Linked DNA regions of Homo sapiens: region 1 is linked to region 2. The links come from fine-mapping of genetic effects on gene expression. A gene starts in region 2. The other region holds a variant in brackets. All regions are shown on one strand. Distances are between the middles of the regions.

The links. PIP is the estimated chance that this variant, and not a neighbour inherited with it, causes the effect. A credible set is the group of variants that fine-mapping cannot tell apart.
Region 1: its variant is the best candidate, but not a certain one, in a credible set for the expression of NHS in whole blood (TOPMed, PIP 0.55).

Annotation. Positions count from the first base shown.
Region 1 is chrX:17,523,574-17,528,944 of GRCh38, reverse strand. The region is part of intron 1 of NHS (NHS actin remodeling regulator); the gene reads right to left. It overlaps LOC101928389 (a long non-coding RNA gene), which reads right to left and starts at 510. Exons shown (of 2, transcript NR_135631.1): 1 at 187-510. The variant A/G (reference allele first, on the strand shown) is at 2,634.
Region 2 is chrX:17,372,419-17,377,789 of GRCh38, reverse strand. NHS (NHS actin remodeling regulator) reads right to left here and starts at 2,590. Exons shown (of 9, transcript NM_001291867.2): 1 at 1,468-2,590. The coding sequence starts at 2,032.

The DNA.
Region 1 (5,371 bases), 150 kb before region 2:
ATCACCATTCCCTTGGCATCACCCAGCTGTCAATCTGGTATTTGTGAAAGTGCCCTGTGCTTACGAAAAAGGATAGTGGCCCAGGGCTGTCTAACCTTCCCAAATGACAGACCTAGAACACTCCAAGAGACCATATATTTATAAATATTTGAGAAATGGGGCATTCCCAGTATAACATATACTCACAGGGGTTGTCTTGCAGTGTGGGTGTCTTAATTTATTTTTCCTTCTTTTTTAAAGCCAGCAGCCATATCCTGAAGCCACACAGCGTGTTTGAAGAAGGGGTGAGTTAGCCAGCACTCCCAGAGAGATTTGGTTCCTCAGAAAAAGAGTCAAAGATGAGCAGCCATGAAGTTCCTCCATTGGTAAACCCAGCACAGCTGCCACCCAGAGCAAACCAGAATCAGGAGTTCTGTGATTATTTCTTAATGCTGACATGCACGACCCAGTTATTCACATGTAACTCAAGGATTCCAGAGTCAGTAGCATCCTTAAGGAAAAATTTTCTCCTTCTGTGAGTTTAGTTATTTAAGGGCAGGGGTGATGTAACCAATACTAGACACAAGAACAGTCCTCTTGAGGAAGAAGAGAGAGAGGGAGGAGCCATATCAGAAGCAGGAGCACCCTACCAGAAAGCAACCTGCTAGATCAGGGGCTCCTTGTGGTGGCACTGGTGACATTTGAGGCTGGATCATTCTCTGCTGTGGGGGCTGCACTGTGCATTGTAGGAGGTTTAGCAGCATCCTTCACTTCTCCTCACCAGATGCCCCTTTTCTCCAGTTGTGGCAACCAAAAATGTCTCCAGACATTGCCACATGTCCCCTGGGGGTGAGGGAAGAATCACCCTCCCCCACTGCCCTAGACAAAAGCCACAGAAAACAAGAGGAAGCGGTAGAAAAAGTCACCAGACACCAATTAATTTGGGGGTGGGGTTGGGAGCAGAAAGGGAAGAAAAGAATGTGGAGACATAAAGGAACATCTCACAGGTTTCAGCCAGGAAGATCAAACTCAACTTGCAGATAAGACAGTGGGTATAGTCGTGCAACCCACAGACTCGGCGTGATTATGGGTCCCTTTGAAGGGAGCAGCGCTTTTACAGGCAGGCCAAGGGGGCAGTGAAGCCTATTTAAAAAGGGAGCGGCTTGTAGTTTACCAGATATCTTATCAAACTTACTTTAAGAATTCAACGCAGGAAAAAAAATGCCACCCCTGAATGCTCCTTTCCTTAAACTTGGATACTAACAAAACTTCCTGTCAACACGTAGGAGCCTGAAGTGATTAAAGCAAAAGGGAGCACTCCCTCTATTGTGTCTGCTTCTAATCCTCAGAGAATTTTTCTTTTAGACACACATACAAACAACTTGGGATTTGTTGATGCTAACTGCAGAGGGGTTTACGCAAGGAGGGGCGGGGGCTGCTCAGACCACAAAATGAAAGGGGAAATAGAAGCAAAGAGAGAGAGGGCCTGAGAAAGTTTCCTTCCCCAGCTTCCAGTCAAGAGGGCTGGCACAGTGCTCAAGGGCATTTGGCGTCAGTCACTGGACTGCTCCCTGAAATGCCCTGAAGGGGCAGAGCCAGGGAAGCTGGCAGGGCCCTCTCTGCCTTTTTCACTTGGGAGCCCAAGTCAGCCAAAGAAAAGCTATGTGCCACCTTTATCATGCAACAAAAGCCACTGCAGAGCCCTCCAAGGCTCCAATGCACTTAATAAAGGCTAACTAAATAAACAAAGAACAAGTCCTGAGAACATAAAACTCTTCACACCTGGGTACCCTCTTTATTACAGACTCCAGTTTAGCAAGAACCCGGCAAGCTCTGACCTTACCTTGGAAACAAGCCCAACAGGGTGAACTGGTCACAGAAGGCAAAACTGGACACATCTTCCCACCTTCAACCCCCAGAGGAAAATGTCTGTTCTGTGCTCCAGACTATTTTTGCTGGGGGTATTTTATTTAAATTCCTTCACTTGATTATATGTTTTGCACAAGTATCTGAAGTTTTGTTCATTTTGTTGTCAAATGAATCTTCCTGCTTCACTTCTAAGTGAGGTTGAGGACCTCAAGTGACATATGCATTCATGATAATAATAACAGCAACATTTATAGAGCTCTTACTACATGCGAGTTCAAAGCACTTGAAATAGATTAGCTCATTAAATCTCAACTGAAGTCTTATTTTTACTTTCTGCAATTATAAATGATCTGTATCTCTTTTCCTCCTCCCCTACAAATTCTCCCAAACCCAGAAATGCGCATAGAAATAATAGCCAGTCACGTATTAGTTGATCTCTCTGCTAGATTGTCAAAATGGCTGCAATCATTCCCCTTTCGGTATCTCCCCATCCATTTGCAATGAGACCTTGTAAGCCCTCCCATCGAGAGGTGGAGTCTATTTCTCAAACCCTTGAATCTGGGTTTGGTTCTGTGACTTGCTTTGGCCAATGCAATTCAGAAGTGGCACTGTCTGAGTTCCAAGCCTGGATCTCGAAAGGCCTTGCGCACTTCTGCTCGCATGCTCAGAATTCCGTGATCACCATATGAACAAGCCCAGGCTGGCCTGCTAGACGATAAGAGGACACTGCCAGGGGGAACATCCCAGATGAGGCCAATCTAGATCAGCTAGGCCTCAGCTGACCT[A/G]TCACTGATTGTGGACACATGCGCTAGCCCAGCTACAACCACCTGGCCTGGCCTAGCCCAGACTGGAACAACCACTGAGCTCAACCACAGACTAAGATATATGTTTGTTGTTCAGCGCCACTAAATTTTGGGGTAGTTTGTTTTCTAGCAAAGGTGTAACATTCAAAGCATTAACTATACTCTTTTAACCTTGTGATTCTCCAATATGGAGTTACAATATGCAATGTTTTTGAAACTTCTTTGACCATGAACTTAACTCTCCCTTTTCTCTCTTCTGTGTGTATACACACATGCACATTCCAAGGAACACACACACTAGGGAAAGGCTGCTCTAGATCACTCATCACAGGAGTAACTAGCATTGGTTCATCTGTAAGTTTTATGAAAAACAGCTGCTTTTCCTTCATGTCCGCTTATAGCTTTTGGTGCTGTTCTGAAAACATTAACCTTAATGGCAACTGTAACAACCAGTGTTATAACAACATATAAGAGCTGAGAAACCTCCCAAACATCCCCCATTAGTCCTTTGTTCTTACTATGGGCTATAAAGAGCTATTTAAAAAGACAAAAATCAAAACCAAGAACTTAATATTCTAGGCCCACTAAAACAATAATCAGAGGTTTCTCCCATAAAAACCCCTTCCACTGTAGTAAAAAAAAAAAAAAAAAAAAAGAAAAGAAAGAAAAAAGAAAACAAAAACAAAACAGTAAATTGCTGCAAAAAATAGACAAAAATGAACTGGCTAGAAACTGATTAAGGATTCGTTTTGAACCAAAATCAATAAAGAAAAAAACAAAATTCCAAGCAATGCCATTCACTGCTTTAACATTCCAAAAAGAACTCCCACACAAGTATTTTGAAACATTCCTGGAAATTCATGTTTTACTTAATTCATCTGCTTCCAATAGCTGGTTTTCCTTTTTAGTCCAACCATCCTTCTCAGAATTCAAACAATCTCTCTAATTTCATCCCTTTCTCTGGAGCAGGGTTCAGATGGTGAGAAGATATTATTATTGCTATCATCATGATCAGGTTTCTGTTGATCAACACTGTGTAAAAGAACCAGGTGCAATTTTCCAGCAGATGCCACAAAAATAAATGATAACATATGCAACCAACATCCTACCATTTTTTTGTAAAGTATTTAAAAACTTATTTGAAAGTTATCTAGTAAAAAATAAGTATTTCCAAAATGAGTTACTACATGTGTCAAAACATACACCCAACAGAACAGGACTGCTTCAAAAGAGCTGTCAGTCAGAGTCCAAGGAGGAAATCAAGGCCCTTCCTCCCTGTGAGCTCAGCTACTAAGATCGGCAGGCTTAGTATGCCTTCCCACCCAATCAAAGACTATTTTGGACTAACAAATATAGAAGGGATGATGGATGAAACCATTAGAGTAAATCATTATCCAGGCAAGAATCCTCAATGAATGCTAAAGCTAGGTGGAGAGAGTTTGATGAGGAATGGGATATTTACATAATGTCAAAATATCTTCCAACAAATTATATTTGTTCATTACAAAAGGAAAAAGAACAGCTACACAGACACCAGCTTAACTAATCAAATGTGACCTCACCAACAAGGGCCAAATGGACATCTGTGCCTCCTGATATGGTCCCCAGAGAACAAATCACTTACATGCCTATATAGCATTCCAACTGAAAAATGCCTAAATCCAAATGTAAATGTGAAGAAACATCAGAGAAACCAAAATTAAGGAACATTCTATAAAACAACTGGCTGGTATTCTTCAAAAATGTCAAGGCCACTGAAGACAAAGGAAGAGTTATGAACTGTTCTTGATTAACGGGGACAAAAGAGACAGGACAACTAAATGCAATGTGGGATCCAGGACTAGATTGTGAACCTTAAGAAAATTGTGATAAAGGGCATTATTGGGACACAGGTTACATAAAAGTATGAAATAAATATTATATTTTCTAAATTTGATAGCTGTACATATACAAGAGAATATTCTCATTCTTGGGAAATGCAAGGGGTAAAGGGAGTTTGATGACAGCTGCCTACTCCTAAATGGTTCAGCAAAAAAATTCACATATATATGAACATGAATTAGTGTGGGGGAGAGAAGGGATAAATGCAACAAAATATGAACAATTAGTGAATCTAGATAAAGGTATACAAGAGTTATTTACACTATTCTTGCACCTGTCCTGTAAGTTTTAATTATTTCAAAATAAAAAGTGAAACAAGCAAACATCACCAAATGCGGAGCTTGCTATGGGTGGATAAGGGTAAGGGCAAGACAAAATTGTACCCCCGAGTAGTCAATATGCAGCAGAGAGCCAGCTCTCTTCCCAGCTGCCCTTCATAGCACTGTCCAGAGTATTCCCCAGAATGGACCCCCTCTTAGCTTCTTTTGAGATGAAGCTTTTGTGACCACAGGCCCCTGGCACTCCAGGATGCTGCAGGCCTTGAAAGAAAACCAAAACCACTTCGGGCCATGGTTCAACTCTTTATGAACATTTTCTTCCTGCAGGTTTTCCACTGTGGTGGTTGGAGGTCTTATTTCTTTTGCCGGCACTGTTGGGAGAGAAAGACAAGACTGGGCTTTTATTGAGGTGTGAGGGACCTGGGAAGCCAAGAAACACAAGCAGGGACTCACAGGTTCCAAGATGAGCTTTTGGGGTATTTACTGGATGCCGCCCTATCTGTTTTCCCTCTTCTGTGTAGAGATCCATTGAGGTCAGCTCATCTGGGGAGACTGCCCCCA
Region 2 (5,371 bases):
AACTCCGGGTCTTTTATAGCTGCGAAAACCGATCGAGCACATCATTTATTCATTACGCTTATTACTATTGTTATTGCAGAAAAGCAGTGAATTCCCGGGACGGGGTTCAAAGGGTTTTTCGGAGGAGGAGGGGAAGAGGGAGAGAACACGCGGGCGGGCAGGGACCGCTGGGAGGCTGAGCTGGGCTGTGGGGCAGAGGTGCCCGGAAATCCCCAGGGAAGGATGCCTCCAAAGCGCCTCCGCCCCGCGCGCTCCTAGGCCACTGCGCACCGGCGCAGCTGCGGCAGCAACCTAGGAAGCTTCTTACGTAAGTCAGAGCCGCTGACATCACCTTCGCCGCGAGCGTCGCAGCCTGACTAGGCGCCAAAGGACCGTCGCGCCAACCCAGCGCCCCTGTCTACCTCCTGGGTCGTTCCTAAATGATTCTGCCGTCGCCAGATTTGGACGATCCGGAGCCAAGGGGACCGCCCTTGGAAGGGAGATGACATAGAATGACTATTTATTGGGAGCCCTTGGGTGTCGTAAAAGCGAAGTCAACGGACAGCAAAGACGCCCAGGGGTCTCCCAGACTTCCTTCCTCGTCGTTTCCCTGCAGCCCGCCTAGCAGACTAGTTCATACCTAAGTCCACGTGCCAGTAAATTTGGGCGACAGTGCACCGGGGAGGAGGAAGATAGTCTGTGGGATCCTCTGCGGGCAGATGGCACAGAGCCATTTAGTAGGAACCCTGGGCTGTTCAGAGCAGAAAAGATGCCCAGGGGTCTCCTCCATCTCCCCGGGGCCCCTGACACTCCCACCCTCATCTCTCCCTGACCCTCCCCGCGGCCCCTCCGGGCCACAAGGGTTTTCGGCAGAAGCACTACGAAGTTCAGTCTAGGAGGCGAGCAGCGCCACGCTACGTCGCACACGAGGGCAAGGCACAAGTTCGGAGCTCGGGGCAGCACCTGAGGTCACAGCGAGTGACGAAACAGCCGCGGTGCTGCAGCAGTCTCAAAAGAACACTCACTACTCCTGGAACCCCCAACCCTGAACATGCATGGTGTGGGCTACAGGGCTCAGGGCTGGGCTTCTGGAAACCACAGGAGTTGCAACCCTCCTCCCTACGCCCCGTGAAGGACGTGAAAGGCGAGCCCCGGTGGTGAAGGACAGACCCTCTCTGCCTCCTGTGCTCCCCATAAACGCTCCCTTTCTGCTCCTTCTCAGCCCACGCTGCCTGCGACTTCAGAGGTCGCCCTTTTAACTTTCCACCGTCCACGTCTGCATCACTGAATCGGGGTCCAGCCCAGCCACTCAGCCCCAGGAGGATTGGGGTGGGTCCCAGGGGATGGGAAGGGTGGGAAGGCGAGAGTAGTAAGGTGCAAGCTGCAACCGGAGCGGCGCCGCGGGGCTGGGATTGCCGCTGCTGGGGAGGGCGCGAGGGTGCGGCGCAGAAACCCATAGCCTGGCGGGCGGACGGCGCGGGTACTCACGCACTGCCTCCTGCTTAGGGTCAAGCGTGCTGAGGACGCGCTGCACGCCGCCGAGCTTGCCCTGCAGCGCCCAGACGCGGCGGTGGGTGAGCTGGATGTCGCTCTCGAGCTCCTGGAAGAGGCTGCAAGCGTGCCGGGCCACGTCCGAGAGCTGCCGGAGGACACGGGCCAGAGCGGCGTTGCTGACCGCGCATAGGTCCAGCATGAGCAGCACGGCCGCCGCCGCCGCCGCCGAGGACGCCTCGCCGGCTGCGGGCGCCGCCTCCGGGATCCCCGCCGTGCTCTCCTCGCCAGCCACGGACGCCTCTCCGTGCGGCGGCTGAGTCTGGTCGGCCGGCGCGGGCAGTGGCGGCGGCGGCGGTGGCAGCCCTGAAGGTGCAGGGACGGCGCGGGCTGGCTCCTCTGGCCCTGGCGCCTCGACCTCGTCCAGGTCCCTCCGGCCCGGCGGCTGCAAGGGCGGCGGCGGCTCAGCGCTGCCTCCGCTCGCGTCCACTGCTGGGCCGGGCGCAGGGCGCCGCTGCCTGCACAGCCATTGCGGCTCCACGATCCGCTTGGCGAAAGGCATCCCGCGCAGCCAGGCGGCGACTTTCTGGTCTCCTCCAAGCGCCCCTGTGAGCTGGAGACCGGGCGCGCCCACCTGAGCAGGGAGGGGGCAGGAGTCCGGCAAAAGCGCGATCTGGCAGTCCGGATACGCAGGGGGCTTCTCTGCTCACCTTGCCTCCTCTTCCCCGCCCTCTCCCTAGCAAATCAGTCCAGCCAGTCCTCCTTTGGGTGCACCGTTCCCTGGGGAGGATGACAAGCGCTCCGCACAGAAATTTAGGGGTGCGCCTGGTCTCTTCTCACTTGCTTCCAACCAGGGTCGACTGGCTCAACTCCATCGTTTCTGTGCTCGCCGTCGCCACCCCGGCCACTGCCGTCGCCGCCGCCTATATAAATGGGCGTGCGTGTGTCTGTGTGTGTGTGGGTGAGTGGGTGGGTGGGTGTGAGTGTGTGCGCGCGCCTCAGTTTGAAAGTACCCCGGCGCAGGCCTCTCCCCGCGCGCCCCTCGGCCGCTCCGGGGAGCGATTGCGCCCGGGATCTCTCTCCCTGGCTGGGCGGGGAGGAGGTTTCGGAAAGGCGCTCTGAAAACCCGGAGAGAGGAATCTGCCTCCAGCCCGGGCGCAGGAGGCCGCGCGGGGGTGACGGGGCGGACGCAGGGCGGGGGAGGCCGGGGCGAGGGGGGCGCAGCGCCCTGTGCGGCCGCTGGGAGTCACTGGTGGCCTCGCCGTGCTGGGCGCGTTCAGGCGCAAAGACACTTCCTCACATCCAAGGGGTTGGAATTGAGACTGTCAGCGTGGTGGGGGCGGGGAGTCCTCAAGTTGGGAGTAGGGGTGTGGGCAGTAAGCGCAGAGGGAAGAGGGTGGGGTATTGAGGATGCGGCAGATTTGGCGTGTTGGAGCAAGTTTTTCGCCGAATTCCAGCTCTGTACAAGACCTTTGGGTTCTTACAGGGAAAACTGGGCTGCTCCTTGGAGATCCCCGGGCTCTATGAACGCAAGGAGACAACTGGGGAGGGCAAAGGGCGTAGGCGCATCTCCATGTGGCCAGAGCAGCCAGAGTGCTGTTTATACCCCTTCCCAGGCATCACGTGGCCCCCTGTTTTGGGCACGGGCTCTATAGAATATCGTGAATGAGACCCAAACCACCAATGAGCAAAATCCCCAGAAAACTGCTTACGAAACTCATTGCACGTTGGGTGAGATAAACGGCATTACCTCCTCGTCACCCTACTGTGCTGATCATACACAGGATTTTTAAAGTTCTCCATCAGAGAGATGATGATTTACAGAAGAAGGGAAAGTTTTCCCCTTCAGTTAACTGAAAGGTATAATTTCTAAAAAGGCATGCATTTTCGATTGCAGCAGGCTGCAGGCTGTATGCCGTCAGTAAAAAGAGTTTGGGAAATGTTAATAAAACACGTGCTTTCATGCCTCCAAAAAGTATACTGTAAAAATATTTTTTATTTTAAAGCCACAAGCCAGATCTTGGGAATGCAGCCTCTTTTCGTGTTTCTAAAGAGAACATGGAAAAAATATGTTTTATGGCAACAATAAAGTCCTCCAGACCTGCGGTGGTGTCTCCTCTCCTCCCTCTAAAGGCGGGAGAGGGAGGAGGCTCCAACAGTCAGCACTTTGGACTGGCCCACGCTTTGGTTTTAAAGGCTTCAACAGACCCTTGTCTTATTCTACAAAACAAAAAAAAAAAAACAAAAAAAAACCAAAATTTTCGGCAAGGACATATCCTTGTTCATAAAAGATCCAGGCTGAGGCTTTGGGGGTAAAGGGCCATGATGTCTGCAAAGTACACATAAATGTTTCAGTAACAACAAGAAGAAGAATGATGATAATAAAGATGTGTATGTATGAAGGGAGAAAAAAACAAAATATGGCAAAATGTTCAAAATAGTCTAGGTTAAGGGCATATCAGGGTTCATTGTACATTTCTTGCAACTTTAAATTTGGTTTTGTTTCCAAATAAAAAATGAAAGAAAAGAATATTTTGGAACAAGGTCTTTTAAGGTTTGTTTTTTATCTCACAAATCTGAAAAGCGTTGAGCTAGCTGTTTTTAAATTGAGCTTGACTTTTTAATACGTTCAAAATTCTGAACATGAGTTCTGCTGGGTAGGCAAGCCAGACACTTCTCCCTAAACACATGGAAGCATGGAGAACAATGAGGGATATTAAAGGCATCTGGTTAGCAAGCCTTGTGGCAACAGGCTGCCCTGCCTCTCACTCTCCCTTACCTAGCACTGTCCTATTAATAGCAAGGGTGCCAGTGGAGCGGGCCCATCTGAGCATTGACAGGGGCAATGAATAAGTGGTGTGGGACTCTCACTCCTAAAGGGAGTTTCAGATTATTGGCAAGTTCCTTCCAGGGCTCCCAAAATAAGTGATCAGAAAGGAAGGGCAAAGGCCCAGGAGAGAAAGGGTTCAAGGGGGTAATTAAGCTAAAAAACAGGCCAGCTACCTTAGTGTCTGCCCCCAAGTGATCAGCTCAGATTCAAGCCGAGATTTCAAAATGATTCAAAGCACAGTTCAAGGATGCAAAAAGGAGTGCCCTCTTTGTAATCTCCTTGACTCTGACTTGTGTGCTAATAAAGCCCTTTGGTTAAAATTTTAAAAACCTTTAATTTTGGCTTTTGATCTCCTTCATTCTCGCTGTCCCCTCCCCTTCCTTTGGTGGTGGTCCCCAGTGACCTTTCCAAGAGCACATTACGTTTTTGTTTTTGTTTTTGTTTTTGTTTTTGTTTTTGTTTTATTTGGGGAGAAAGACACCCTCCTTCAAAGTCACCAAAACCAAACCTAATACAAATGATCATATTCATTGATATGGTTGGTTGATGTTTTCCCAGTCCTCTGTAAGATATGAATAAAGGTATCTTTAGAAAATGTAACGATTGTTTTACATTAGTGACACCATCTAAATAAAAAACTGCTAGCTTTGGGAAGGCAGCTTCAAGACAGCCTGCTGGCCCCATCCTACCCTTTTCCCAACTCAAGTCCCTCCCATGTGAATTACCCCCACACACACACCCCTACACACATTTTTGGGTTTTATTCCTGCTTTCTAGAACTAAAATACTGAAATTTTAAAAAGGGTAGCAACACATGTAATCCTGACAGGACATGTGAATAGTCTTAAGCTGATGAGTTTTCAGCATACGTGGGAGCTGTGTCTTTCTTGTTTAAATCCTGAATTGTGACATTTTACTCCAAATTTTCCCACAAAAAGTTCTGATGAAGTCAAGGTTGCTTTCTAAAGCCAGGTTGTTACACCTGATTGTTACACCAGATTGTTATGTGTGTGTTGATCTCTCCCAATCACACCGCCTCCCCACTATTCATGTACACATGTTTATTTACCG